Regions from separate parts of the Homo sapiens genome. Here region 1 is linked to region 2. Evidence: fine-mapped expression QTL. Tissue or cell type: whole blood. Region 2 holds a variant in brackets; the other region holds the start of a gene. All regions are shown on one strand. Distances are between the middles of the regions.

The links. PIP is the estimated chance that this variant, and not a neighbour inherited with it, causes the effect.
Region 1: ARHGAP5-AS1 starts here. The variant in region 2 is fine-mapped to the expression of ARHGAP5-AS1 in whole blood (TOPMed, PIP above 0.99). The same link has a PIP of 0.9 or more in T cells.

Annotation. Positions count from the first base shown.
Region 1 is chr14:32,071,028-32,083,236 of GRCh38, reverse strand. It overlaps ARHGAP5-AS1 (ARHGAP5 antisense RNA 1 (head to head)), which reads left to right and starts at 6,538. Exons shown (of 1, transcript NR_027263.1): 1 at 6,538-7,818. ARHGAP5 (Rho GTPase activating protein 5) reads right to left here and starts at 5,933. Exons shown (of 7, transcript NM_001030055.2): 1 at 5,802-5,933. RefSeq lists silencers at 5,580-5,874, 5,673-5,892, 6,253-6,512.
Region 2 is chr14:31,939,199-31,951,407 of GRCh38, reverse strand. LINC02313 (long intergenic non-protein coding RNA 2313) reads right to left here and starts at 6,555. Exons shown (of 2, transcript NR_146544.1): 1 at 6,300-6,555; 2 at 1,114-1,319. RefSeq lists enhancers at 54-673, 6,074-7,273. The variant G/T (reference allele first, on the strand shown) is at 6,228.

The DNA of each region.
Region 1 (12,209 bases), 130 kb before region 2:
GCCATTTTACAAAAATAGAGAGTAGGCAAGATTTGGCCCAGAGGCCATAGTTTGCAGACCCCTGAAACAGATGAATGGTTTCAATGAAGAGGAAGGATTTGAGTGAACCTTAAAAAATAGACGAGATTTGGATTGTAAAGTCGTCTCTCCAGGTGTACAATTAGGGTAGAATGGCTGACCACAGTACCCATGTTGGAAAGAAATACTGTTTTGAACATATAAGTTATGACCCTAGGTCTCAAGGGAAAACAAGAGTTAGACTTTGTCATAAGCAATAGAGAAGCCACTACAGATTAGTCTAGAGGAGGAATACAAGACTGGGCACAGAGCCCAAGAGATAGACAAATACTACAGGCTAAATGCACGTGAACTATCACAGAATTTAAAAGAGCAATCCAGCCAGGTGCAGTGGCTCATGCCTGTAATCTCAACACTTTGAGAGGCAGAGGCCAGCAGATCACTTGAGGTCAGGAGGTCGAGACCAGCCCGACCAACATGGTGAAACCCCATCTCTACTAAAAATACAAAAATTAGCCAGGCGTGATGGCGTGTGCCTGTAATCCCAGCTACTCAGGAGGATGAGGCAGGAGAATAGCTTGAACCCAGGAGGCGGACTGCAGTGAGCTGAGTGCCACTGCACTCCAGCCTGGGTGACAGAGCAAGACCCCATCTCAAAAAAAAAATTAATTAATTAATCAATAAAAGAGCAATGCAAGACAAAGAGAGCTTGGTAACTGGCTACTAGACATAAGAAATACAAGGCAACACATTAAGCCAGTGTTTCTTAATGAAAAACTAATCAGTTTCAGCAATAGATGGTGGTTCATTTCACTTTCAGGTGTTATTTCCAAAGACAAATGAAACCTCGGTAATGAAACAAGGCAAGTTCAGGATTATTAACATAAATTTCAGCATCATAAACTTCAGAAAATTACCTATGAGACCATTTGGTGTAATACTCTTATTTTCTAAAGAAAACATATGAAGAATTAGATACTTGGTTAATACAGAAGAGTAGAAATCTAGATCTTAAATTCTCTAGATCAGGGGTCCCCAACCCCGGTCTGGTAACCATCTGTGGCTTATTAGGAACTGGGCTGCACAGCAGGAGGTGAGGGGTGGCCTGGAAAGCGGGCATTACCACCTGAGCTCCGCCTCCACAGCAGCGATAGATTCTCAGAGGATCAAGAACTGTAGGTTGCTTGCTCCCTTTGTGAATCTAACTAATTAATGCCTGATGATCTGAGGGGGAACAGTTTCATCCCAAAACCATGCCCCCGGTTCCGTGAAAAAACTGTCTTCTACAAAACCAGTCCCTGGTACCAAAAAGGATCGCTGCTCTAGATTATAGTAATGTTAATTTTTTACTAGTTCTCTAAAAGAGATATTACCTTGGCTCTGAAAAGGTAAGTATAAAAAGAAACAATTTTGAATCAGTAAAAGAACATGATCAACAGAAAGAAAATGAACAAATTATGCCATATCAGAAGCCAAGGTGAGAGTTTTTCCAAGGCTGTTTGACAAACCAAATACAGTAACTAGACAAATAGTTATGCCAACGTTACGTGTTTATTTCTACATCACCCCTTCTATCACTCTTGCATTAATACCTTCTCCAAATCTTTCACTCTGGCTCATAAGGTACAAAACTGATGCTCTTACATCTTTTTTTTTTTTTTTTTTTTTTTGAGAAGGAGTCTTGCTCTGTCGCCCAGGCTGGAGTGCAGTGGCGCGATCTCGGCTCACTGCAAGCTCCGCCTCCTGGGTTCACGCCATTCTCCTGCCTCAGCCTCCCAAGTAGCTAGGACTACACATTTTTATATTTTCTTCCCATCTGCTAATCTGTCCTCTACTTACCTGTGCTTTCAGTCCACACTGTCATTAACTTCCCTAAATGTCTTTTTCCCCCTTCATTATCCCAATTGTATGCTACTTCCAAGTAATACTTTCCTTTAGCTAAATAACTTTCTACTAACTTTTAAATCAGTATGTAATCCAAGTAACACTTCCTTTAGCTAAATTCCTTTCTACTAACTTTTAAATCAGTATGTACTTCCCTAAATATACCTCAAATTCTTAAAGTGTCATGCTTGCTGTCTCTCCACAGAAGTTAAAAGATCTTTTAAGGGAGCAATATTTTATACTTTTTGTATCACTCAGTGCCTAGCTGCTCAATAAAATATTGGTCAGGGATAATAAAATAGGCTAAATCTAATCTAACACTAGAAAAATGAATATCCATTTTTACCATTAACTCTTCATGATGAAAAGCTTGAGACTCTAAGCAAGTAACATACTAGTCATTTTAACCACAAAATTACAAGGTTATGCTCTTTTTCCCAAGTAATAATTCTATGAAGTAAAACACAGATATGACCAAGCATCAACAATCTGTTTCATTTCCCTGCAAATCTAAAGTACTGTAGACAGCTTCCAAAACACAGTGGGGGGAAAAAAAAAATTATCCTTTTTGGTCTCTCTTACATCTAAACTCCTGCTTGCAATTAAAACTCAAAATGTTTCTTCTTCTATGAATGATTCCCAGAGGTCCTGAGGAAAACAGGCATTCTCTTTCCTGCACCTCTTAATACTTTTAACTATTTACTCCTTTATACAGCTTGAGCTATTATACCTATATCTAATTTATCTTGGTATTTCCAGGGCTAGGCACATAGTAAGTGCTAAATAAAAGTAATCTGAACTAATGAATAACGAATCAGAGACTTAAAAAAAATTAATGCAGATCAGTTTTGTTTTTTTTTAAGGGGAATTTTTTTTTTAACTTTGAAGTTCAGGAGTAGATGTGCAGGTTTGTTTTAAAGGTAAACTCATGTCAAGGGGGTTTGTTGTTACCCAGGTATTAAGCCTAGTACCCATTAGTTATTTTTCTTATATTTAAATAATAAATATTTTTCTTATATTTAATTAAGTTAAATATTCTTATATTTAAATACAATACACTTAATACATGAAAATAGAAGCTGTCCTGGTTTGGGAGGGTGGGTTGTCATAGGAAGTCTCAAGGCATCTAGGAAAAAAACCCACAGGAATCCAAGGAACAGAGTTTGAAAACCAATTAAAGTTCATACTTAAAATTCTTAGCATTGAAGCATTTTTCTTAATTTCTAATATGGTTTTTCCTATTTCAATAAAATAATCGACAAAAGCCTGCACTTAAAACAAGAGCCTGATTACTCAAATTACTGAATGATGAATCTACTGATGTTTCTTCACAGGTCTTTTAGAAATTAAATTCCCTTGGTGTACTTTAAATATATAATACAAGTATCTTTTAGGAACATAGACATCACTAAAACAACACTGTACAATGCTTCTTCAGCCAATTATATTACTACACACCTTCTTGGTATGCAAAGAAAAAACTGTGGACCATACAACCCAAATAAATAGTTCTTAAAATAGTATCTATGGAAACTACAGTTGCGACAAAACTTATTCTGTAGCTACCAAGAAAATCTCTATTATGCCATTTCATATTTAAGAAGTGACCACTAAAGGCCAACACTCATCTTACATCCTGCCAATGTTGGTAAAGTTTAGTAAAGTCTTTATGAGACCTAACTTTTTCTTCAATTAAAAAAAGTGAGTTAGAAAACTTATTATCGCTACTTCAAATCCAAAAAAGGAATGCAAATACAATATTCATTCCTTAAATAATCTTAACTTTCAAGGTCAAAATAACTCTCCAAAAAAATGACTGTGCTAATATGCTTTTCAAACACAAATAAGAAGGGGAGACGGTTTTCAAAACATTTAGGATAAGTATCTTGTGACAGAATTAAGGTAATAATTTTGCAACACATTTTAAAAATTGCTAAGGTCGTTTAAATGGGGAGGGACACTACAAAACTCATAAAGATAACAGAATTCTGCCGCAATTCTTACATCAAAGTGTAACCCACCTCACTCCCCAGTACTCTTAATAATTAATGTACAAAGAATGGCAAAATAAGACATGTTGATCTAGGTTTAAAAACACAGCCTACACAAGACAACCAAATCAATAGTTATTTAATCATCTGTACCGTCTGATTCTGCTTTAAGTCAATTAGATCAATAGTGCTATTTCTTGAAAGTTACAAGCATAGGTATGCGCAGCCTTTCACTCCAGTGCGTTTAGTCATAAATTGCTCCAGTGTCTTTGCAAGTTTTTGGTGACACATACTTACCGCTCTTTGTACTACAGATAAAGGTAATGGAGGTCAATTAGTATACAAAGGATAGATGAAAGCAAAAAATGAGAAAGGAATTTAAAATGAAAGCAAAATCTTACTCAAGAAACTATCTAGTAGGTTACCTAGACGGTTAGTAATACTTATCTACAAACACTGAATAAGAATACCGTTTTATCGTATTACAGTACAAATAAACTAGAATTGACAGCAAAAGGTTTCATTAACGTATTTTTAAACCAAACATTATTCCAAATGTCTAATCGCTGCATCTAGATGAAATTTTTGTTAGGAGAACCATTTTAAGTGGAAATGTAGAGCAAGCTCCCATGAAGTGAACGAGATCCTTCATGCGGATAAACACCACCTAACATTCTAACTGAATACTGGTTCTGGATTTAAGTGGAATTGACAAACTCGCCCCCCGCCCCTACCTGTAGAAAGCAACATAAGCAAGTACTAGTAAATACAGCGAAGCATTTTGCTGTTTTACACCTGAACATTTAAAAAAAAATTCAGTTTCCTGCCTATCACAAAGGAAAAAATAAATGATCGATAAGAATTTAAACTTAAAACGTAAGCACAAACCCATCTATATGCCTATCTTGCTCTATCTCAAAATATTTGAATTCCCATTTATTAAGCGATGGCCAAATCCGAATTTCTATCACATGGTAGAAGTATAAGCGTCTCCCCTACAACTTTTTCGGGATTTTACTAAACGGCCTAATAACAGTTTGCCCTTACTTCCGTGCACCTTTCAACCTCAGCTACACCCCGAGCCTCCAGCTCTCTTGCATTTCTAATAACGCTGAAGAGGGAGGGTGAGAGGGAGTATTTCTGTGTGGATAAGTGCGCGCGCGCTCCCGCGCGGCTCCCCACCCCCACCCCGATACTTTTCTTTAGTGGAAAGAGAGGAAGAATCTGGAGGTTATTCTAGCGAAAACTCAGTATCAAAGCCTCAACCCAGTCGCAGTCAGCCCATAGGACTCTGGGCTCTGGATGCGCAGTGCAACTTCTCATATCTTACTCCAAGCTTCAAAGCAGATGGAAAATTGGTGAAGAGAACCCAGGGAGGAGTCGAGGAGATGAGGGAAAGTGAAAGGGCCGATCCCCCCTACAAGGCGTTTAAGTTTGCAACCGAGACTGTGTTTCCGCGAATCTGCACCCGCCCCGTGTACCCTTTCCAGGTGGAACTCGTTAACAGCAGCAACCCGGCCAACGGACACCGCCACCTCCCCTCTCGACGGACCACCCGAGACTCGAGCAAGTGAGGCGGCGGGCGAGAGCGGACGCCTGGCGGGGCCGGCGATCCCCGGCCAGCATCAGGCCTCCGCCGACCCTGGCCCCGTCACCTGTGGAGAAAGCACCCCCTCCCCCGGCCTCTCTGCCCTTCACGCCGAACGTATCCCTAACGCTGCAGCTGCTGCCCGCCCGGCCTGCGAAAACCGAGCGCAGCGCCAGGCTCCCCTCGGCGGCCGCGGGGCCCCAGCCCCTTCAACTGGTTACAACCGGCAGCGGCGACCGAGCGGGGCAGCTAGCCGCAGGAGGGTCCCCGTCCGGGAGGGGGCAGGCAGGCTTGGAGGAGCGGGGTCCGCAAGGTCCTACCTAACAACGTCGGTCTCCTCCGTCTCCTCCTCAACGGCAGCGGCCCCGGCGGTGGCGGCGGCAGCGACATTCCTGGGGACCGCTCCCGCCGCCGCCGCCTCCTCCTCCACTCTCCGCTCGCCTCTCTTCCTCGGCGCGCTCACCGAGCGGCGCGTCCCTTCAGCCACCTCCCCCCGCCCTCCCCGACACACACGCCCCGAAACCCTGAGCCCCACGGCTCCCGCAGCCAGCTCACCCACCCTCCCTCCCTCCCTCCCCGCCACCAGCGGCGGCCCGTCCCTCCCCCCTTCCCCAGCGCCCGCCGCCGCGCCGGGCTCAGTAATGGCGGCCACTCGGGCTCCCTCGCGCTGACGGATTTCTCTCCCTCTCTCCCGAACTTTACCTCAGCATCTCTCCCGGCGCGCGCAGCCACACACCCGACCGGGGGCGGAGCGGCGGCGCGGCGGCGCAGCCTGGACGGGACGCGCGCGCGCGCGCGAACCCGCGCTGCCCTCCCCACAATCCCCCGTCCCCGCCCCTTCACCTCGCGACGCCTCCCGCGCCGCGCACCCGGCACGGCCCCGCCCCTGCCCTCGTCTCCCGGGAGCCTGGGAAGGCGCGAGCTATCCAGTCGGAGGGAGGGGGACGAGCGCGCGGGGCCGCGTCCTCGCTCGCGTCCCCGCTCCCTCCTCCCCTCTGCTTCTCCCTCCCCTCCACTCCCCCATTGGCTTCTACCCCTCCCCCTTCTTCCTCCGCCTCTCCCACCATTGGTTCCCTCCCCTACTCCATTCCTTCTCACCTTTTCCCTTTTACCCATTGGCGTGAGTATTTTTCCTCAGCTTCCCTCTTTCTCCGTATTCTGCTCCTCCTCAGTCCCATCCTCCACGCTTTGGAAGCTACTGCCTTACTGCCCGGAGCGCCGTCGTCCCCGAACCTCCCCTGCTTCTCCCTTTCCTTCTGTTCCGGTTTCTGGTCGTAACTCAAGAGCAAACCACCGTACTGCAAAGGAACCAGATATTGTGCTCGCGGTTCCAAACCGGGCATGGGCACCGAATGCTTCTCGATAAATCCCCTTATGGTCTCTGAGCATTAAAGAAAGCAAGGGAGGAAAACATGCGCCCAAGCTCGTTCGCAGGAACATGTTCGCGTGTCTGCGCCTGTGTGCGCAGCCAGTTTTCTGGCTGAGGATCGCTCGCCAACTACAGACATCACCCGCCCAGGACCCGGTGCCACACTCACCCAGAAGACGAAACTCCACAGGAGCGAGAAGAGGAGTCCATTTCTCCGTCGGCTCGGCACGGCACGGGGATGCAGGCCCCTGATTCAGTACGTTCTGTGAAAGTGGAGCGAGAAGCCAAGACGTGGATCGAGAAGCCCCGTGGGGCGGGTCTCAGGGTGGCCCAAAAGACCCCTGTTCACGCCACTACCAGCCTAACTTTAGGAACTGTCGTCCACCTGGCTTTTATTATACTGCCTTAAACATATTCACTTTTTTGAGACTCTAGAAATTTCACAAGTTTTGGGGTAGAGCACACTGGGCTTTGGGTGTGTTTCTCATGAGGGCACTGACGCTGAATGGTGCAGTGAGAAAGGACGGTAGAAACCACTGCCTTTGCTTTTACCATTGAAGAAACTGAGGTCCTGTGACTTTCCCGAGGTCATCGGAATCTGCCTTGCACAGGAGACTTAAAATAGTTGCCAGCAGATAAAAGAATGAGCAAAACCACATCTACTCCAATTTGTTAAGTCTGAAAGAAAGTAATTGAGGGGGGATTCCTCTTTGGGGAAATATTTATTTCCTGCATTGAAAATAGTTTAATGTTAGTAAACATATAAAAAGTATTTTAAATTCAAGTTATTCTTTATTTCTTATGTTACATAAGGTACTGAAGTTAGCCAAGGTTGCTTTTGTGTTATAATGATGCAGCTGCTGCCAACCAGAAGTACATTTACGGTCTGTCAGTAAAGAAAACAAAAACTGCCTGTTGGTAAAAATCTATTAGAAAATATTTGTCAGTAAATTTGTCACAATATTCCAGCAGAAGTTCTGTTCGTTTTTCCGTCTTCCTGCCCTTCATATTTCTCAAAGGTAGACTTAATAAAGGTAGAAGAGACATTTCTAATTTTTCTATATATCTCTTGCTCCCTAATTTCTAAAAGGCATAACTAAAATGCTTTATTCGAGCCACTCCCTTGCATCTGAACCCTACCTACCAAGTAGGTTAAGAGTAGGTTAGGTAAGGTCTGTAGCTACTTCTTTCTTTCAGTTACAAATTGTAGGTGGGAAAGAAGGATGCGGAAGGAAACTTGCAAGGAAAGCAAACAGAAAGAAAAAGAAGTAAAAAAGGAGAGAAGGGAATTTGGTGGGTGGTCCAACCATCAAAATGTGGTACTAATGCCATAGGTATCTACACCACTTATGTAAGTTGGAATGTTGATGCATTCCAACGCATGTTTTTATCTTTGTACTGAAAGCCCTTAAGAATACCCGAAGTAAACATATAAAAAGTATTTTAAGTTCAAGTTATTCTTTATTTCTTATGTTACGTAAGGTACTGAAGTTAGCCAAGGTTGCTTTTTAGTGTTATAATGATGCAGTTCAAAGTCATAACCTGAATAAGATGTTAAGTACTATAGAGTGTACACCCTAAAGATACCTTAAAAATTATGTCCTAAATAATCAGAAATTTTAATAATCATGGACATGTATCAACATAAACCAAAGCCAAATAAATCAGGGCTTCTAAAGAAAACGTTAAAAAGGTGTAATGTTCAGTTATAGGACATGATACTGGAGGCAGGGAAGACTTGAAATCTCATTTATTTTCTTATAATGAAGACACCAGAAGACGTTAAAAAAAAAAAAAAGATCACGATTTCCAAACAATGATTTTCATAGTCGACATTATTTTCAGTTCTTTATCTTGATTTAGGGAGCCTGGAAATTTAGGACTTCGTTTCTTATTAATACTAATAGTCTAAAGGTGTTTACCAGTACAAATAAGTTATTGTATGTAATTTGCTCTTCTCAAAAAATAGAGTTTTCTGTATCAATAAAAATCTGAAATGGGGGCCACAATTCTGTGGCTAATAATGCCTATATATCCATAAATAAAAGGCATCAAAGAGCAGGAGGAAAAATATGTAAGATGGCATCTTTAAAAATTGATCAGGAGCCAAGACTTCAGAGAAAAAGCTTTAAAACACCCACCCTCCCTACTCAAAAGGATAATTTTTAAGAAAATAGGTAACTTATTTACACACACACACATGCGCGCGCACAAATATCGGACAGAAATGGAAATGGAATAAATATTAACAAGCCCTCTCAAATCAACTACTCTTCTTATCTAGAATAAAAAAGTTAAGCCTCTCTTCTGCTGTACTGGATAATTAAAATAACTGGACTCTTTGTTCCTCGTTTACTTTGAAAAAATTAGAATAAGATTTGTCAGGCATTTTCGGTTTTTAATTTAAATTTTCTTCATAAATCTCTAGTTCTTCATCACATCCTAATAAAGTATTAATATGCATGGTCTTTTTGAGATCAAAAGACATGACAGTCATAAAAAAAGTTATCATAATTCCAGCTTCTACCATTAGTGGTAATACTGCAATATTCAAATGTTTCATATGTTGTGGCTTCAAAAGAACTTACCCTATAGAGGCAGCTACACCCCCTGCTGGAAATCTTTGATCATAACAACTTTGGCTTCTGTAGTCTCAATCAGGAACATATGAAAAGCCAAATAAAGGGCCTTACCACTCATGACAGAATTGACCAATACTTTAGCCTGTCTGATACAAGACAGGCTTTTGGAGAACAACCTATGTCAGAATATCACCTTGATTACAGACAAAATACACAAAGAGGATGGAGAATAATGATGTAAATAGCTAAATAGCCAAAACACTTGTAAGATATTTGCTTAATTTCCAACTGTATTTCCACTCTTTACCTTATCCCCATCTCCTGCCTAGACTTCTCTTTTTCTCTCTATCTCATACAATTAGGCCTACTTGAGGGGAGGAAGAAGGCAGGATAAGATGGGATATTAATCCTTCAGCTAGGCAAATAATGGTGTATCAATCCACAGTAGCCATTTGCTGCATTAAGGTGCTTAAGGGCTTTCCCCAAATTTGTTTTATGGGTACCAATGATATTTTCAACATGAAGAAAAGGTGCTAATTATGTCTTGGCTGTTACTGTAGAAAATATTTTGACAAGAGTTAAGGTAATTGTGAGCATGGGACTGGAACAGGAGGAAAGTAGTGCATTGACCTTCTTGGCATTTTGTTCCACACAGCCTTGTTCTGTTGATATTCCAGAACTGTATTTTCAGACTGAAATCCCAAAGATGGTATCAGAGTCTAGCTTTAAAATGTCATGCTCATGAAACTCTAGTCCTAGGACATAACTGAAATACTGAAAGCAGCACACTATTTTTAAATAATTCGTATTTTGTAAAGATTATTTGTAATGCAGACTCCTTTTAAAGGAAAAACAATTCATTCAGATCCCACCAGCACAAATACTTTAATTAGACAAAATCTTCAAGTTATTTCCTCTCACAAAAGGAGGTATTGTTGGGCCATCTGGACTCTCTATTGAGTTTTTATGAAAGATCACAGCTTGAATTTAATCAACCCCAATAAAGTTAACCCCATAAAGCTAAAAAATAATTGCAAGAATTGCTAACTGAAGGATTTGAATTCTCTGTTTGAGATTGTTACCACTGTCATTTGTAAATCATTACAATGGGAAACAGGAACTTGTATTGCTTGACTATTTAACCTCATGAACATAATTTTTGTGAATTTCCCACTCTATTTAGACCAAATTTAGATTGTGAGTCTCTCTACATAGGAATAACAAAATGAATGTTTGGCTCTATATAATAACTAGAAGATCATTAGTAGAAAGTTCAATAAATGTTTGATAATAATAACATGAAACACTCTAGGTTTTATGGATTTCTGTGGATTTGTGGCTAACAGAAGGCTTTAGATTATATTTCGAAGTGCCAGCTGAGATAATCACTTTGGAAAATACAAATCATTTAAAGAAATCGCTGAATTCACCTGTGAAAGTTGAGTTAGATGTCCTTCCTCAAGTACAATCGACATATTTCCACATAACATCTCTCTAGTAGGTAAATGTGAGTTACTAACAACAAATAACTATAGGTCTGAAACATCTGGAAACATTCTAAAGAACTGGTGCAGTATAGTTTCTGAAACCAACGATAAAGTGGCTAATCACTTCTCAATTAAGTCTCTGTCGGTTTTCCCTATTATTTTAAACTAAAATAGATGGTAAATACTTATTTTGCCAATTCACATGTTGCATTTTCTTCAAAAAGGCAAAAATACAACTATTTTTCTAGTTCAATAAATATATACATACTTCTAAATACAGAAGGCCCCTGACTTACGATGGTCCAACTTAAGGTTTTTTGTCTTTACGATGGTACGAAAGCAATAGTGACAGCATTCGGTACAAACTGTACTTTAAGCACCCATACGACCATTTTTTTTTCACTTTCAGAACAGTATTCCATACATTACATGAAATATTCAACATTTTATTATAAACTAGGCTTTGTGTTAGATGATTTTGCCTGACTGTAGGCTAATGTAAGTGTTCTGAGCATGTTTAAGTTAGGCTAGGCTAAGCTATGATGTTTGGTAGGTTAGGTGTATTAAATGCATTTTTGACTTTACAGTATTTACAATTTATGATGTGTTTATTGGGAAGTAACCCCATCATAAGTTGAGGTGCATCTGTACTTCTGTATGTCTCAAATTACAATGTGATTCTTTTGATGAACACATAGCTTCTTTCATATACATCTGTTATACAGTGAGGAATAAGAATACTCACCTTCTTTCTCCAACTAGGCTTCTTACTCCTCTTCGGCACAGCCCAGGACAGGCCTATATCACATACATCATTTGTTTCTGGTTCTAATTCTTATAGGAATAGACATTAAATAACTTTTTTATGCTATGCCACAAAATATTTATATTAGTTATTCTGAGATTTTACAAACATGACAATAATGTAAAACTGATGTAGCAAAAGCATATAAAGAGCTATATGTATCCTATAAATTAAATTCTTATAGAATTAAATTTAAAAGGAAGCAATTATTTAAAATGATATTTTAGAAGCATGTATTTATTGAGGTAGAAAAATAGTCATAATACTTTATGTGGGAAAAAATGGTACAAAGCAATAAAAGCTGTATGTTGCTGTTGTTGTTGTTGCTGTTTGAGATGGAGTCTCACTCTGTTGCCCAGGCTGGAGTGCAGTGACTCAATCTTGATCTCAGCTCACTGCAAGCTCCGCCTCCCAATGGGTTCACGCCATTCTCCTGCCTTAGCCTCCCAAGTAGCTGGGACTACAGGCGCCCGCCACCACACCCG
Region 2 (12,209 bases):
ACACATTCGAGAGAATCGAATCTCACATAATCATATATGTGACAAAGGCCTCCGCTATAAGCAACATTAATGAAGACAAATGAATCAGCCAAATGCTGCAGCTTGCACAGCAGCACACAGGGAGGCTGCTTTGTTGGGGGAGCTCATTTCTGGCTGCGGCTCTTGCCTTTCCTGACAGAGATGTATGAGGAGCCTCCCACGGAGGGGGGCGCCTCAGCCACCGCCCCCACAGCCCCAGCTAGAGGGCAGGCGGTCAGGGGGCTTTGAGGGAATTTTCAGAAGACTCTCAGAACATGTTTACACATTTTTATGAAAGTTATCTTAGGGGAGACAGGCAAATAGAGATTAGTTGGATCCAGTGGTCTCATAGTGTTAACTAAACAAGCTCCCTGCATCCTGGCAGTTGCCGACTGGGAAAGTAGTTATGAGAATTCTCATCCCAGCCAGCGGGTAACCACGCCCCAGTAACCGCGCCCCATTCAGGCTTACTGAGTGCCTGAATCAGACCAGGATGGGGCTCGGCTCTGCAGAGTCCCCTGCTCGCCTGTAGGCCATTTGTATTGTTCTTCCCATCCATTTCTCTTTGTGACAGAAGAGCAAACACTCAACTTTGAGACTTTTACTCCAACCTCTCCTGAGGGGATGACAGCCCATTAAAAAAAAGGCATTTATAAATCAAGTGGCATGAGACTGGAGCTGGTGAAGTGGCCGTGGCTCTGTCCTGGCTCTCGATGGCTATGTTTTGATGCTTACCAGCAGCTCAGACAACCTCTAGAGGTGGAAAGATGGCATTCTCATGTGTTTCTGGTGAGAGGACATAAAAAACTGCACCCTGAAAGACAGATCTGCTTGTTGTGGAAGCATTTGACCCTGGCAGCAGGAAATCCCGCCATCCTTTCAGCGTTTGCTCTGCGTAATTCAAGAGATGGCAGGAAGGACAAGCTCTCCCTCGTAAGGGATGTCTCCGGCAGGACATTAAAAAAAAAATGTACCTTATCAGAGTCTAAATGAAACATTCTCAGAAATTTCCTGACACAAATTAAACAAGCCAATTTTATTAGATCAGTATGAAGGGGCTTGAAACTAATTAATCAATGTAGAGATCAGATCAGCCAATGACAGTGAGACAATGGAATGAAAACTTGGCAGGTCAGTGAAAGGCCTGGATTCAGACAGGGAAACAACACTAGGTTTCATTCCCCATGGAAGAAATTCCTATTGCTCAGGAAAAGACACTGAGCTGGGTGACAAATCCACTGTCATCAGCAATCTTCTTCAGGGAGTATGCTCTTAATGACACTCAGATTGATTTTCCATTCCTGGGAGGAAGAGAAGGAAGTAGAAGTGATCAGAAAACGTAAATATCTTTTAATAAACCTGGGCAGGCTGCTGGAAGAATACATGTATACAAGAGAAATAAACAATAAAAACAGTGCACTTGGGGAAATGAGTTTCCAGCATAAACAGAGTAACTATGAGTCAGTAAAATTGGAATGAAAACAGTGTGGGGCATCTTCTGATAGGACTTAGCAGCCACACCCTCTCAGTGGAGGCAGAGGGAAACTCACAGGTAGCCTTGGGCTCATCTCTCAGGTTCCAGTTTCCTCCTTCCCTAAAACAAAGGGTTGAGCCAGATGAACTCTGTGGTCCTTTCTTTCCTAAAGATGCTACTACTATTCAATACTCTTCCAGAGCTACCCTGAGAGGTGGCCAGGTCAGCAGTGACTAAAAGCTGGTGATGACTGTGTTGTGGGAGTACAGAGAGTAGGGACTCCAAAATCAAAGCTAGACCTGGTCTCACAAGCACTCATCACTTCATTGATCAGAAGCCTCTCAAAACCTAATCAAATTGTAGCACATTATATTATACTTGCATAAGACCATGCCAGCCATGTGATGGTTCAAAATGTACACATCCCGCATGTCCCCTGGAATGGTGAAAAACACTCAACTTTTGGAGCCAGAAAAAAACTGGATTCAAATCCCTGCTGCCCCACTAGCTGGTGTTGTGATTCTACACTAGTCACTGTCATACAGCAAACTATTAGTCAGCCATTAAGAAGAATGAGGTGATCTACAGGAACTCACATGGAAAGATGGCCACGATATATTATTTAAAAGTAAATAGCAGACAATTGCCAAAAGGCAGAAGCAACTCTGACGATGGTTACATAGGTAAACTAAATGTGATATATACATACAATGGAATATTATTCAACCATGAAAAGAAAGGAAATTCTGACACATCCTACAGCATGGATGAACCTTGAAGACGTTATGCTAAGTAAGCCAGTTACAAACAAATACTGTGTGATTCCATATATGAGGTACTTAAAGTCGTGAAATCCATAGAAACAGAAAGTGAATGATGATTGTCATGGTCTAGAGCGAGAGGAGAATGTGGAATTGGTGTTTTAATGGGTACAGGGTTTCAGTTTGGGAAGATGAAAAAAGTTGTAGAGATGGATGGTGGTGATGGTTGCACAACATTGGAAATGTACTTAATGCCACTGAACTATACTCTTAAAGATCGTTAAAATGCTAAATTTTATGTTATATATATTTTAGGACACTTAAAAAAGTAAATGACAGAACAGTAAATACAGCATGATCCAATTTTGGTTAAAAATTGTGAATCTATATATTGTCTACGTATAGAGGGAAGTCTGAAAGAATATATACGACAACAGTAATAGGGGTTACTCCAGGGGAGTAGGATCAAGAAGGGGTGGTAATGGATGACACAATTTACAAGTTTCATGTGCCTCGAGACATGAAGCCTTGTGTTTGGTAGGACAATGGCAATATATTCTGACTCTCAAAAACCTCTCTGTCTCAAAAGGAAAAGGTATTCCTCATTTTCTGGTCCCTCTTTCCGGGGATGCTATCTATGACTCCCCCCAGCATTTTTTTTAAGCCAAATACAGTCTAAACTCCTTAGCCTGGTATTTAAAGCCCTATACAACTGGATTGCAGCCAGACTGTTAGCATTCCTTTTTAGCTGCCTCTATGCACCAGTATAGCAACATTCCATGTTCCCTGAGCAGTTTTTTGCCTCCACGGCTTTAAGCCATTCCCTCTATAAATTGTCATTCCTTCCAATCTATGCCTGCAGATATCTTGTCCATTCTTCAAGGATGTAGTCTCTGAATCCCTTGGTGGAAGCAATGTCTCCTCCTTCCCTCAAGGCAATCATCTCATCTCCCAGTCCTGGCTTGCTTGTATACATACATGTCTTCTCTCCCCTCAGGGACCCTGTGTTCCTTGAGAGAAAAGGCCATGCCTTATGTAGCTCAGGAATGCCCATGACACTACAGTGTAATTACACAACTGCAACAATGATGATGGTGCTGACAGCACCACGCAGTGTCACCTGCACAACCATGAGAGTGGGTACCTCCCTAAATTTTGCACCCTAGGCACTTTGCTCACCTCACCTAGTCCCAGCCTACTACCATTCATTGAATGCCTTCACTGAGTGCGTCAGGCACTGTGCTAAGAAAAGACATGTATCACTTCACTTTATCTTCACAGGAGTTTACTACGTAGGTATTACCCACATTTTGCAAATGAAGAAACCACAGCTTAGAGATTAAGTAACTTGCTTAAGATCACATTGCAAAAGTGGGGATTTGAACTCAGGCTTGACTGATTCCAAAATGTGTAGTTCCAATAATTATAGCCCACTGCCTTATCAGTATACTTGAGAACACAGTAGGCATTCAATACTTGAGAACACAGTAGCCATTCAATACTTGTATGTTTAGTGAATTTAATTGGAGAGAGGTCAGCATGCTGCTGGAAGAGCACAATGACTGTCACCCTGGTCCTGTCACAAACCTCACACTGCTCTGGAGTCCTTTGACAGGGGTAGGCACCAGAAGTATCAGCGTCATTCCTGCTTGCAGCTTTCGAAAGAAACTCCATCCTGGTTCTACTGTTAGGCCCAACTACAGCTTCCCCTCACTCTCTTCCTCAATCCATTTCAGACACCCATTTCTCTCCAACAAAAACCCGGCGCTGAACTCATCTCTATAGATGGTGAAGTCAGGAAAGAGAGTGGGAGTGGCTATGAAAACCTCTCAGATTCTGACCTCAGATGCACAGACATGAGGGAACAAGCCCTGCAGACCTGACTAAACCTGGTTAACCTTTTGTGCTGTCCAAAGCACCGATGGTAAAGAACGCCAGAGGGATTCTCAGATGCTGAGAACAGATTCCAAGAGCTCTGAGAGGCATGGAAGGAGGGGCCATGTGCTGCCGGGAGAAGTGAGGACCTTTGTGATCAGTCCTACGTCAGGGGCAGACGGCCCCAGTACTTAGGTCTATCCAGGCTGGCACTGTCCACGTGTGGCCATTGAAATGTGGCTGGTGTGAATTGAGATGTGCTGTAAGTGTAAAACACATGTACGATTCCAAAGACTTAGCATGAAAAAGGAATGCCAAATATCTCATTAATCATTTTTTATGTTGATGACTGTTAAAATAAGATTTTGGAGGGTTAAGTTAAATAATATAGATTATTAAAATTAATCTCACCTGTTTCTAGTTTTTTCAATGTGGTTATAATATATGAAGTTACATAAGTGACTCACCCTTGTGCCCTGTATTATATTCTCACTGGACAGAGCTGATCTGTAGCCCCAGACTGTTTCAGACCATGCCTTACCCCACCAACCAGGGTCCAGCTGCTGGGGCTCAGCTCTATCCTAGCTTGGGTCTCTGCACAGTGGCAGCTTTGGTGACCAATATACTCTGTAACTGCTGTAATTTAGGGGTGTCCCTGACTCTGAAGCCAACTGCAGAGGTTGAGAATAAGAAATAACTACATTTTCATGCATTCACTCACATTTCTCCTCCCAACCCACCACTCTAACTGTCTTTCTTTTAGCACAACTGTTGTAAATACATGATCCCCAGAACAGCAGCATCGCATCACCTGGGAACTCATTAGAAATGCAGATTACCAGGTACCATCCAGAAACTCTGAATCAGAAACTGTGCCCAGCAATCTATGCTTTAACAAGACCCTCCCCACGAGGACATTATTCTGATGAATTCTAATGTTTGAGAACCAGGGTCTTAGGGCACTGTTTCTGAAACTTTGTAGTGTATTAAAATCATGTGGGGTGCTTTAAAAAATTCCAATGCCCAGGCCACACCCCAGGTCAAGTAAATCAGGTTCTGTGGGGGTAGAACCCAGGCATCGGATGGATGTTTGGAAAACTCTCCACTGATTCCAATGTGCAGTCACAGTTGAGCCCCATTGCCTAAGGGTAAAGAACTCAAGAATATTAGTCGGCCATTTTCCCTATGGTGGAGAGCCTGTAGCTTTGAGCCCCGTAGAGAGAAGCCTTCCTGTGGGAGGAGAAAACAGTGTGTAAAATGAAGAAAGGGGCCAAACTGGGCATGCCTAAGCTTCGAAGGCCTCTTTCATTATAGGCTAGCTGCTGTAATGAAACAGGCAATTGCACCTGAGATTTTTCTGAAGTTGAAATGACCACGTGGAAAGGGAACAGCTTCTCTCCACAGTCCATCAAGAGGGGAGTGGCCAATGGGCCGCTTGGAGGACAAAGACCAGGGACACGCCCATTATCTGAGGCTTCAGGTATATTAAAATGAAGAAATCCCCAAATAGGGTTTCAAAAATTGTGATATACTATATTTTAGAAGTTTACATTTAATAAATTAAGGCTTTAACACGTGTAAGCTTTAAAAAAAAAACGCACAGGGTAATATAACCATCCTATTCACGGGATAATGGCAGGATTAATCTTAAAAATTCATGGGCCTGGTACCAAAATCAGGCATAAGTTTAAAGCTGATGATCATTTCCATCTTTTCAGTCTTATTAGCATATCTTCAGAGATAAATTTTTAAAAATCCAAATGTGAAGTCTCTGTGAGTGTGAGATCCCTGGATGAAAGGCCCTCCTTTGCCATGCCCCTGGGGCAGACTAAGAGGACCGCTGGAAAGAGATCCTAAGTGTGGCCCTGGAGCAGCTGTGAATGATTAGGTTGTGGGAAGACAACTGACATCTGGGTGCCTTGCGGCAGCCTGACCAGGGAGGTGGTGTCAGGGAAGCCAGAGCACCCCCCTTCCTCAGTGTGTTCCAGAGCAGTACAATACCTGCCTCCCTACACATAATGGATGCCTGCCCACCACCCTCTGTCCTCAGGCACACTTGGCTGCTGACAACAGGAAGTGAAACAGCCACACCCTCCTTT[G/T]ACCCTATTAAGGTAACTCCTAGTTTGATACAGAGGCTTCCGGGGAGGGAAAGAAATAAGGGAGACACTTACCTTGTGCAGCACCTGCAGTGCTGTTGGTTTATAAAAGCACGAAATCTTCTGTCCCAGAGGCTGGACTGGGCTCATGACTGCATGTGAGATTGTGCTTTGGGAAGAGAAAGCAATCCCAGACTGAACAACAATTTTCTGGTGGCAGGTGCATCCATGAGGAGCTGCAGTCGGTCCCAGCAGCATATGCTTTCTCCTCTGGGAGGGCAACTCGGAGACGTGCAGACTAACGGGACCACTGGCTGCAAGCCTCAGAAACCTCTCAGGAGGTCCCTGGCAAGGCCTGTGGTATCTGGGCAGTGCAGGCAGCCTGGGCACCATAGGACAAAGGGGCGGGGAGTGGGGCAGGGAAGAAACAGCACAGAGGAAACAGCACACCTTGTTCTCATTGACTCGGAGTCAATGGCTGCCCACAGACTCTATTTCCTGGAGATTCAAGCCTCACACTGTCCTGTCCTCTCCCCTGAGTAAGTCTTCCAGAGAGTAAGAGCCACACCCAGGCAGAGGTGGGTGAGGCTGGGGTTCAAAGTACAGAGCCAGCCCTTTTATCTCATAGGCAGAGGAAATCATCCACTGTAAACCCACAGCGTCCTCCACCAGGGCAGCGTTTGATTCCTCCGTCTCATATCTCCGCTTGCCTTCCCTGTGGGTCAGTAGTTCCTGAGTTTCTCTAGCCTATAGAAAACATGAGGAGGAGGAGGAGAGATGGAGGGGGAGGAGGAGGAGAAGAGAAGGGAAGAATGAGCACATGGACTGCCCAGCCCCAGCCCCATGGCACCAGCATGGTAAACACTTGGAGGGAGGCCAGCCGTCTGGCGCCTCCAGTCTTCCACATCACCCCAGCCAAGATTCAGACCTGTATATTCTGGGCTCTTTCTGCCCCATTTCACCCAGGCTTTAAATTACCCAGACTTGGGTCTGGGTTATTCTATCCAAAACTTTCCTCTGAAATCTAGATTGTGATGCAATGTATACGTTCTCTAAATCAGATTTCTGAGGACTAAATGCCAGACCGCGTGGCGTAGCAGTCTGGCTGCAAACCATTTCCGTCAGCCCAGCGGAGGAACGCACAACAAGGTGCTCATCCCCGCAGCCGTGCACAGGAGACAGCAACGGTCCAGGTAAATTAGAAAGGCCTAACTTGAGCCAGCTAGTCATGGCAATTTAGGGAAAGTAAGGACTACACAGAGGCTCTGGGACGGCTTGCGGAATCAATGCCTAAGTTGCTGGATTGCTCCTTCTTTGGCTATGGAGCTAGTGGTTCCAAAATCTACCCCTTGATTCCTTAAGATGGAAGACCATTTAGACAAGCTGAGCCAAAACCCAGAGTCTTGGAACAAGCCTGTAACAATAATAGCAGCAGTAATGACAATGATTTTTAATATTCCTTGCTTAACAAGTGCTGGCCACAGTTCATGTTTTACATGGATTTACTTGGGGAATTTGATCGCTGGATCGAGGTGAGGACCATCCTCACTCCTCAGCTCCCCGGAGGACAGTCCCTTCCCCTCTGCTAGTCCTTTGACACAGACCCATTTTGACTTTTCAACTTCAACATTCTAGTTCAAGTCTTGGCCAGCTGTCAGCCTGGGCTTGTTTCTTCTCATCACAAGAAAAGAAACAGGGCTGCGAAGAGTAGCAAGCCCCTGACTGCTGCCCTTAAATGAGCTAGCCTTTAGGAGAAACACCCGAAGGTCAGGAGGCAAGCACTGTTTGCTCATGGCTATTGTTCCTCTGGGGAGCTGTGAGGGTGGGGTGAGTGGGGGAGGGTCTCTCATTTTGTGACTACACAGTATATAAAAAGCTGAAATGAAAATAATTCAGAAATTATTGTTGTCTTTATAAAACAACCTGTTCTGGGGTACCTTTCTGTACTTCCCTAAGTATATTTAAAACACAATTTTAAAATTCAATTTAACAAAGCCCCATCAAGACACATGCACTGCATCGTGCACATCTGTATAAATGCTCTTAAAGTGCAGGTTTGCATGAACCTTATTTTTCTAGAGGAGTGTGTCCTCTTGGGGAAAGAGGGAAAGAAGGCAGTAAAAATAGCATCGTGTCGCTGCTGACTGTGCATTGGCCACACAGCTAAGCACAGAGTGCCTAGAGAGCTTTGGCAGGATCATCACATGTTGTCCTCACAACAGACCCATGAGGGAGGTATCTCATCCCAATTTACAGATGAAGAAACTGAGGCTCAGGAAGATCAAGTGACGTCTTCATTATCACACAGCCATTAAGAGCTGAGCTTGGTGGGAACTCAGGCTTCCGCGACTCTAAAGACTAGAACTACAGACAAGCTGCAAAGCAAGATCAGGTCAAGATATTCTCCAAAGTTATATCCCGTGGCTCCTCAGTTACAGATGTGATTGCAGAATCCTGCCACTTCTTTTCTTTTTGGTCTCCTTGTTTTCTCAATCCAGTCAGAATGAATTTTAGATGTGTCCCAAGTGCAGTCTGCCTTCAGCCGCCGAGCCACTCAGACACTTGGAGCTAGCCCAAGTAGCCCAAGTAGTAGGTCTGTGAATAAACGTCACTTCTGGAATCATTCTTCAACAAGTACAACTTGACTAGAGAGACTCAAATACCTGCACTGGTCCCAAAGAGCCATCACCCAGTGCTGCCAAGTCTGACCAAGATGCATCCTAGCTAAGGAACCAGTCACACCACTGGCTCTCACGCCATGCCTGAGAGGAGCACAACAGGAGTTTCTCCAGGAAGCTTCCCAACGTTCAGATGAGTTGCTCTCCATGTGGATTCAGCATCCTGACGAGCTGACACCAATTCCAGGCCTGGCATGTCTAACAAATGCAGCATTCAAGCCCAAGACACTGAAATTGTTACCTCATGTTATAAAGGACCTGAAGCTGCATGCAATTAGCACTGCATCTGTGAGACTTGGGAAAGACAACTGAGAGAACAGGGTCTTAAAAAGACTATTTTGGTCCATATGGAAAATTGGTGTGTTGCATGCATGGTAAAATCCTTTCAGATATATTTTTAAACCTTATGTTTTTAAAACTGGGGACTTAAATATTATTATAGGAAAAGCAGCATGATTCCTTTAACATCAGAAGGAGATCTGTAAGTTAAAAAACTGTTGGAACCTTGTAAAGAAATTAACATTGTGAATGAACTCAGGCATTAGTGCAAATTAATCAAACTGCATACATTATAATTTTTAATCAGTCATGGAATTTCAATACTTGAAGGGACCTTGGAAATCATCTGTCCCAAGAGCAAGAATTATGGAAGATAAATGGGCAGGTGGAGAAAAACCTCCTGGCTAGAGAAAGGCACAGAAAAAACAAAGAGTTGGGAGACAGCATGCACAGTGGTTTGAAAGCTCAGGGATTTGCACACACAGCCTGGGTTCGAAGCTCAGCTTTGCTTTTTGATGGCAGTATGAACCAGGCTGAGTTGTTTGACCCTCCTATGTGACAGTTTATAAACAAAAGGTTATTCTGAGTCTTAAGAGAGACCATCCATAGAAAGGGCTTAGTATGGTCCCTGGGATACCATATGGTGCCTGGGACATCAGTGCTGAGTAAATATTAGCTCTATAGAAAAAGGAATTTTACAAACATAATCTGAGTGAGCCAGACTGACACACTATGTATAACTGTGGTCTTTCTCTTTTATTTGGCTATGAAAGAAAAGCAAAATGCAGTATATTGAAGCATTCAGATTTCTGACCATGAGAACAGGACATAATACCCAAGGTCTTTTTTGGAATAAAAAATGATCTTCATAAAAGGGAATCACATTTCAGCTGTAAATAAAGTCAGACCTAATAATCAAGAAAAGAGGGCCCCATGGAGATGGTGAATCACGTATATGAGTAGGTGAAAGCTGCCTCCAAAGGTCTTGATGCAAAGCTGTCCAAGGTTTAGAACTCTGGGCACATTTCTGGCCAAAAGAGGTTCAAAATCATCATCCATGGTGTTCTGTTCTAGTCTTAAGATGGAACTAGTGCTGCATTAAGTGTCTGATTGGGAAAAGTTAATGGTTAACAAATAAGATATAACTCTCTGGGACATCTTGATATAAATTTAGTTTAGCCTTATAGTATAACAATTATTAATTATGCTGAGGGAGGGAACATAGATTGGTGGAAAACTTGTAGGCTCTGGAATAGAACAAATCCTAGAACTGTCAATTGGTACTGTGAGATCTTAAACAAGAGATACAATGTCTTCAACCTCAGTTTCCTCATAGTTGCCATGAAGGGCCAGCACAGTGCTTGCCACACAGCTGGTACCCAAGAGGCATTCATTTTCTCTTTGCATTCATTCTACATTTGTTATATTAAACAGCTCTATTTTTTTTAATTTAAATAGGTTTTTGGGGAACAGGTGGTGTTTGGTTACAAGAATAAGTTCTTTAGTAATGATTTCTGAGATTTTGGTGTACCCATCACCTGAGCAGAGGGGGTGGGAGGGGGTGAGGGATAAACAGCTCTATTTTTGGGTGGAAGAAGAGGGCTATACTTGTTTGACTCAGTTTCCAATACAGATAGGAAGCCCAGCAGTTCAGACCAACACTAAGAATAGACAACACTCTATTCAGCAGCAACACACCTGAATTACAGACACGGTGTTTGTGTGGGAATCAGCTCTGGGCTACTAATTTCCCAAACCCAAACCTATAGTGGCAGAAAAGACAGCTGTACTCAGAGCAAGAGACACGTCTTCATCCTATTTCTGTTACTAGCTAGCCTTTTTACCGTAGGCAAGCCACTTAACATTTAACCTGTGTGTCTGGCTCCAAATCTACAAAATGAGGGCTTTGACCAGATAACATCCAAATTTCCTTAGAGCTCTCAAAATTCTATGTTTTTATAGTTTGGGTTCATGCTGTTTGTTAACGTGTGTGACCACTTCTACTCCAAAAGCCACAGGGCCCTGCTCCATGTCCTCCACCTTGGTTCAAGCCATGATTTTTTTCCTAGGTTAGCGGCTCCATATTAACAGCAGTTGCACAAACAGAATCTAAGTGAGCGAGGCTGCCAGCTGTCACTACTGTATCTTCTGCTTACTCTGGAGATCAGCCGAAGCTGTGTGATCCCAGAATAAATGGATCTGCCATGAAGATAGGATTTTACTGCAAAAATGAGTTTTCTGATGGGTTTAAAGCCACAAAAATACTCTGAAGGCTGTTTTATACCTAAATCATGCTATATGAATTAAAAAGTAAAACACAACCTCTCATACCTCTTCAGGTTTTAGTTTCTTGTGGCTGATATAAATTTCACTTAACTCCCAACTGACATACGCAAAAACATTTTTTGGGGTCAGAATTCAAAATAAAATAGGGGCACATGCCAATTGTAACCCCATACAAACCAATGGGGGCAAGGGCTGGTTTTATAGAATGTTAAGCACCTCATGAAACTAAAGGTTTGATTCATCACTGTAGCTTTATAGTTTCCTTGACACTTAGCAGTGTTTTGTACCTAGCAGGCTGGAAGCTGTTTGAAGGCAGAGATGATACTTCATTCATATCTAACATAGTGCACTGGTATATTGGAAGTACATGTATTATCTGGCATAGTGCACTGGTATAGCATAGTATTATCTAGCATATCATATCCAGCATAGTGCACTGGTATATTGGAAGTACATTAGTTTGCTAGGGCTACCATAACCAAATACTGCAGACTGAGTGGTTTAAACAACGGAGATTTATTTTCTTACAAGTTTGGAGGCTAGAAGCCTGAGATCAAGGTGTCAGCAGGGTTAGTTTCTTCTAAGGCCTCTCTCCTTGGCTTGTAAAAGGCCATCTTCTGTCTGTGTCTTCTCGTAGTCTCCTCTCTATACACACCTGTCCAAATTTCCCCTTCTTATAAGGATACTAGTAAAATTGGATTAGGGCCCACCCTCACTTTAATTACGTCTTTATAGACATATC